Regions from separate parts of the Homo sapiens genome. Here region 1 is linked to region 2. Evidence: fine-mapped expression QTL. A gene starts in region 2. The other region holds a variant in brackets. All regions are shown on one strand. Distances are from middle to middle.

What was found. PIP is the estimated chance that this variant, and not a neighbour inherited with it, causes the effect.
Region 1: its variant is the best candidate, but not a certain one, in a credible set for the expression of UGT1A6 in stomach (GTEx, PIP 0.51).

The regions. Positions count from the first base shown.
Region 1 is chr2:233,596,433-233,599,347 of GRCh38, forward strand. It overlaps UGT1A. Among named protein-coding and RNA genes, the nearest start is that of UGT1A8, 20 kb to the right of the region's middle. The variant C/T (reference allele first, on the strand shown) is at 1,730.
Region 2 is chr2:233,691,063-233,693,977 of GRCh38, forward strand. UGT1A6 (UDP glucuronosyltransferase family 1 member A6) reads left to right here and starts at 1,828. Exons shown (of 5, transcript NM_001072.4): 1 at 1,828-2,803. The coding sequence starts at 1,943. The region is part of intron 1 of UGT1A8 (UDP glucuronosyltransferase family 1 member A8); the gene reads left to right. The region is part of intron 1 of UGT1A10 (UDP glucuronosyltransferase family 1 member A10); the gene reads left to right. All of the region lies in intron 1 of UGT1A9 (UDP glucuronosyltransferase family 1 member A9), which reads left to right. It also overlaps UGT1A7 and UGT1A. RefSeq lists enhancers at 1-573, 574-1,180.

The DNA.
Region 1 (2,915 bases), 95 kb before region 2:
TGGGAGGGACCCAGTGGGAGATAATTTAATCAAGGGGGTGGTTTTCCCCATACTGTTCTCCTCGTAGTGAATAAGTCTCACGGGATCTGATTTTATAAGGGGTTTCCCCTTTCACTTGGCTCTCATTTTCTCTCTTGCCTGCCACCACATAAGATATGCCTTTTGCCTTCTGCCAGGATTGTGAGGCCTCCCCAGCCATGTGGAGCTGTGAGTATCTAAGCAGCAAAGTATTCAAGAGGTGACTTGGTGCTGTTAAAGGCATTCCGTTTTAAAAGGGAAGCAGACATAAAGGTTCAGAAAGTTTGCAGTCAAACAGGCTGCAGAATTTGCATAAGTAATAAGGAGCCAAATGTTAATCCCTAATACAATGGGGAAAATGTCTCCAGGGCACATCAGAGGTCTTCATGGGAGCCCCTCCCACCACTGGCTTAGAAGCTTAGGAGGAAAAAATGGTTTCCTGGGCTGGGCCCAGGACACATTAAATCTCTTTTTAAAAAATAATTTACCCGGCCTCAAGTATGTCTTTATTAGCAGTGTGAAAACGAACTAATACAGGAGTCATCAAGAAAGGTCAGCTTCTTCATCAAGGTTGGAGGCAGTGAAAACAACCCGAGTTCCAGTCCCTTCTGTGGGACCTAGCTTCTCCTCGCTGTCCCCACTTTACATCCATCTGCCCTGCCTGAAGACCCACCCTGGGGTCCTTAAGTTCCAGCATCAGACACCAAGGCAGTTTGCAGAGATCATCCAGTCAGCTACCACCATGCATCTGGCCAATCCCTCACCATGGGTATGCACAGCAGCTCTGCTTCTCTCACTGAACCCTGACTGCTATAGGTCGGAAGTAAGGGCTGTGGCACCGTGGCACCTTGTACACTTTTTGACTTGAAATGCAAGAGGCAGAAGGGACAGGAGCAAGAGGAGAGCCTAGACCATGGCCTATTACAGTTTTTGTGGGAAAGACAGGCAGGGCAGGAGAAAGAGTTTAGGACTGGCTGGTTTGGATAATCTCAGTGGGCTCTGAGCTATAAGGCTGGGCCCTTTGCTCTCTCTAATAATTGGCTGGCTTGGAAAGGGACTCCATTCTCAGCCAGAAAGGGATTTTAAGATGTGGAAACATCATAATATACAGAAAATTAACAAATACATGCAATACAGGAAGTATGCTCTTTTTTTTTCTCATGGATAAATACCTAGCAATAGAATAGCTGTGCTTTATGATAGGTATATGTTTACCTTTTTAAGAAACTGCCAAACAATATTCTCAAGTAGCTGTGCCATCCCACCACCAGGATATGAACGGACCAGCTCTTCCTGCTCACAAGCACCTGGTGTTTTAGTCTGTTTGTGTTACTATGAATGAATACCTGAGACTGGCTAATGTATAAAGAAGAGATGTTCAGCCTTCAGTTCTGCAGGCTGTACAAGAAGCATGGAACCAACATCTGCATAAGACAATAGAGTTAGCCTATCCCTTCCTGGCTTAAATCCTGGTGCCCACTTCTCTTCCTTACTAATAAATGTCCTTTGTGGCATTTTTTTTTCTAGATAGGGCACTTTTGCATGAATTAAAAACCAGTTTGGGCAGATATTCTTTCTCCTCGAAGCTTTTCCTCATGAATTCTGGGAACTCATCTGCTGCATATGGCTTCTGTTATCTTGACATTTTTAAAGCCAAACCTCTTCCTAAAACTAGCAAACCATTCTTTGCTGCCATTAAATTCTCCAGCTT[C/T]ATATCCTTCACCTTTATTTAGCTTTGTGTTGTTATATAATGACTTTGTTTTTCTCAGGTCATAGTAGAGAATGTAGGTATGCCTTTCTTGTAACAAGCCTGTGCCCACATAAAAGCTGCATTTTTATAATAAAATTTTATTTAGATAAGCATGATACAGAATTAATCTTTGACAACTTATCTATGGATATAATGACTCTAGTTTCAGTCTTTTTCTTCTGAAATATGTGAGCTTTCCCCAACAATCTGGACTGTTTTCCTACCTTAATATTCTACTTTTGCTCTTGGATTTGTTGATAGGGTCCAGAGGACTTCCCATGGGGCTGTAAAGAACTTATTCCTCCGTGTGGACTGTGCACACCGTGGTGCTGTCATTACTGTTACCACCAAGAGACTCCTTAAACACTTAGGATATATGAGAGTCTTCACTTGGTTAAAAAAATCTGCCAGTTTCTCAGAAAGACCTTTCTCACTATTAATCTTTAACCCATGGATGGAATCCTAGATATTTTTATCCATTAACTCTTTGAATATCCTTGTTTCTACCTTGGCAGTGGAGTCTACTGAGATTGAAAAGCTGCATTTTTAATATGAGATAAAAAGGTATTTTGGAAAAAGTGCAAGGTTTGAAGCCTGCTGGCCTCACTGCAGTGATGGCTTAGTGAGTTTTCTTTTCTTTTTTTAACAATGGTCCTTATCTGGTTTCATTTTTTTTTTTTTAAATGATGGCCAACCACAGCTGCAGTCCTCAACCTATGGTACATGTCAAGCAATTCAACTTTCATTATAATATCATGAATTTCTTTGCTTCATGGGAGCACTTGAGGCATCACTAGTGACACTTTGTATGGGCACCATGGTATTATTTAGGGTTTCTGATATGCAGCAAACATGACAAACAATGCATGAGAACTGTGAGATCAGTGTTTACTATGATACACAATTTACTGGAGGGATGAACTGCACACATGGAGATGATCAGCCTCACGTGGCGTTCTGAGTGGATACTTACAACACTTGAACTCCCTGCAATAGCAACAGGGGGTGGCTATGAAATTATCGCAATAGTACAGTAGGCACAGTTAACTCTATGCACTTATGACTTAATGCTGCAACCTTACTTTTTTTACTTTTCTGTTGACTACAAATGGTGTCATGTATAGTCTGTGTTTGTGTGTATAAGTTT
Region 2 (2,915 bases):
TAAAGAATGTGAAGTTTGTAGCATCTCTTGATCCCGCTATTCCTACATGCTTGCTTAAGCCATTCTTCCTCTAGATGAACTGTTCTTTGAAGGAAACCTGCCTAATGTCTGCCTGCTCAAGAAGGTGGACCTGAGCTCTGTTCCCTTTGCAACCTTCCTGGAGTCTTATTGCTATCTAGATGAACTCAAAGCAAGATGCTGCCGCCCCCATGACTTTGATCATTGTAAGCTGCCAATCCTCTTGGGAGGCTGCTCCCAGCTTGGACTGAGCTGAGTCTTCGCATGCCTTGAACAATGAATTTGCATCCTGGTTATGTTCCCCATGGGGGCCAGCCCTGTCCTTGGAGTGGCCCCTCTAATCATGTTGCTCAGGCTTCTTCTCCCTTCCTGGGCCCCAGAACACCTCCGGTGCCAAACTTGTGGGTGGGAACAGGAACTCGCGTGCCAGCCAGGTGTGCATGACTAGCTCTGGGCAAGTCTGTTCTAGTAATTCAAGGTACCACCTCTCACTGGGACAGCCTAGTTTCTACACAGGTCTTGCTCTGGGACCGCCCTCAGCAGTGTGGTTAGCAGGCAGGGCCAGTGTGACCCTCCCTTTCTGGGCCTCAGTTGAGAAACCTGAAGCTCAGGAGAGGAGTCACTCCCCTGGCAGATGGGTGGCTGGGCCAGAAGCAGATACCAGGCTTTCTGACTCCTGCTCTAGGATTCTCACCACGTACTGGCTAGACTTATACTTCTCAAATCTTAATTTCCTAAAGGCAAGTAACAGTTTGAATGTTGTTATATTGTGATGTATAATAAGAAATATATGTTTGTCTTTGTTTCCTGGACACAGCTCCTGAAACCATAAGTGGTGGGAGCGATAAACGTGAACAAAGAATCTTTTGTTATTCAAAACAGATCCCTTTCGATCACACCTAAGTTTATGTAAAGGAGATGTAAAGTCTCTAAGGATGAGGGCTAGTTGCCAGGGAACAAAACCCTTGCGATTAGAGGGAAGAAAGGAGAGAGAGATTGAAGATTGATTTGATCACCGATGGGCAACAATCTAATCAATCATGCCTACTATGTATGGAAGCCTACATAAAAACTCAGAAGGGCAGGGTTCAGAGAGCTTTCAGGTTGCTGAAGGTGTGGAGGGTGGGGCACCCAGAGATGGCAGATGGGGCTCCATGGCCATACCCCCATATCTTGTTCTTTGTACTTTTTCCTCTGGCTATTCATCCGTATTGTTTGCAATATCCTTTGTAATAAACCAAACCTAGTAAATAAACTGTTTTCTTCAGTTCTGTGAGCCATTCTAGCAAATGATTGACTCCAAGAAAGAGGGTGTGTGAACCTCTGATTTTTGCCAAGTCAGACAGAAGTTGTGGGTAACCTGGGGACCTACTACTTGCAATTGGTGTCTGAAGTGAGGGCAGTCTTGTAGGACTGAGCCCTTAACCTGTGGGGTCCGTGCTAACTCAGAATTCAGTTCAGAATGGAATTGAATTGTAGGATACCCAGCTGGTGTTAGAGAATAGGTCCGTGTGCAAGAAAAATTCCCGCACATCATGGACATAACAGACAACGTCAATGATGAGGAATCCAGCAAGTTCGGGATAGAGAATTGGCAGGGGGTCCTCAGGGGTCTCTCCAAGTCATCTTCAAAGTGTTGCTATAACTTTTCAGAGAGGGAGAAGCAGACTTGTGGAGCTGAAGAGAAACACCCAGAAGCTCAGGTGAAAGCTGACACGGCCATAGTTGGTTCATATTAACCATGTGATTAAAATGGTTAAATATTAATTTGGGTTCTTACATATCAAAGGGTAAAATTCAGAGCAAGGGAGAGGTAGACAGGACCTGTGAAAAGCAGTGGTTAGTTTAGGGAAAATACCTAGGAGCCCTGTGATTTGGAGAGTGAAAACTCTTTATTACCGTTGTTACTTTAACTCTTTCCAGGATGGCCTGCCTCCTTCGCTCATTTCAGAGAATTTCTGCAGGGGTTTTCTTCTTAGCACTTTGGGGCATGGTTGTAGGTGACAAGCTGCTGGTGGTCCCTCAGGACGGAAGCCACTGGCTTAGTATGAAGGATATAGTTGAGGTTCTCAGTGACCGGGGTCATGAGATTGTAGTGGTGGTGCCTGAAGTTAATTTGCTTTTGAAAGAATCCAAATACTACACAAGAAAAATCTATCCAGTGCCGTATGACCAAGAAGAGCTGAAGAACCGTTACCAATCATTTGGAAACAATCACTTTGCTGAGCGATCATTCCTAACTGCTCCTCAGACAGAGTACAGGAATAACATGATTGTTATTGGCCTGTACTTCATCAACTGCCAGAGCCTCCTGCAGGACAGGGACACCCTGAACTTCTTTAAGGAGAGCAAGTTTGATGCTCTTTTCACAGACCCAGCCTTACCCTGTGGGGTGATCCTGGCTGAGTATTTGGGCCTACCATCTGTGTACCTCTTCAGGGGTTTTCCGTGTTCCCTGGAGCATACATTCAGCAGAAGCCCAGACCCTGTGTCCTACATTCCCAGGTGCTACACAAAGTTTTCAGACCACATGACTTTTTCCCAACGAGTGGCCAACTTCCTTGTTAATTTGTTGGAGCCCTATCTATTTTATTGTCTGTTTTCAAAGTATGAAGAACTCGCATCAGCTGTCCTCAAGAGAGATGTGGATATAATCACCTTATATCAGAAGGTCTCTGTTTGGCTGTTAAGATATGACTTTGTGCTTGAATATCCTAGGCCGGTCATGCCCAACATGGTCTTCATTGGAGGTATCAACTGTAAGAAGAGGAAAGACTTGTCTCAGGTTGGTGGGTTTATTTCTTTTGGACTGCCTTGTTTCTTCCAGGCTCTGTCCTCCCTCACTCATTTGGCTCCTTGAGCCGACTGTCCCTTGGAGGATTTCCTGGAGAAACGGT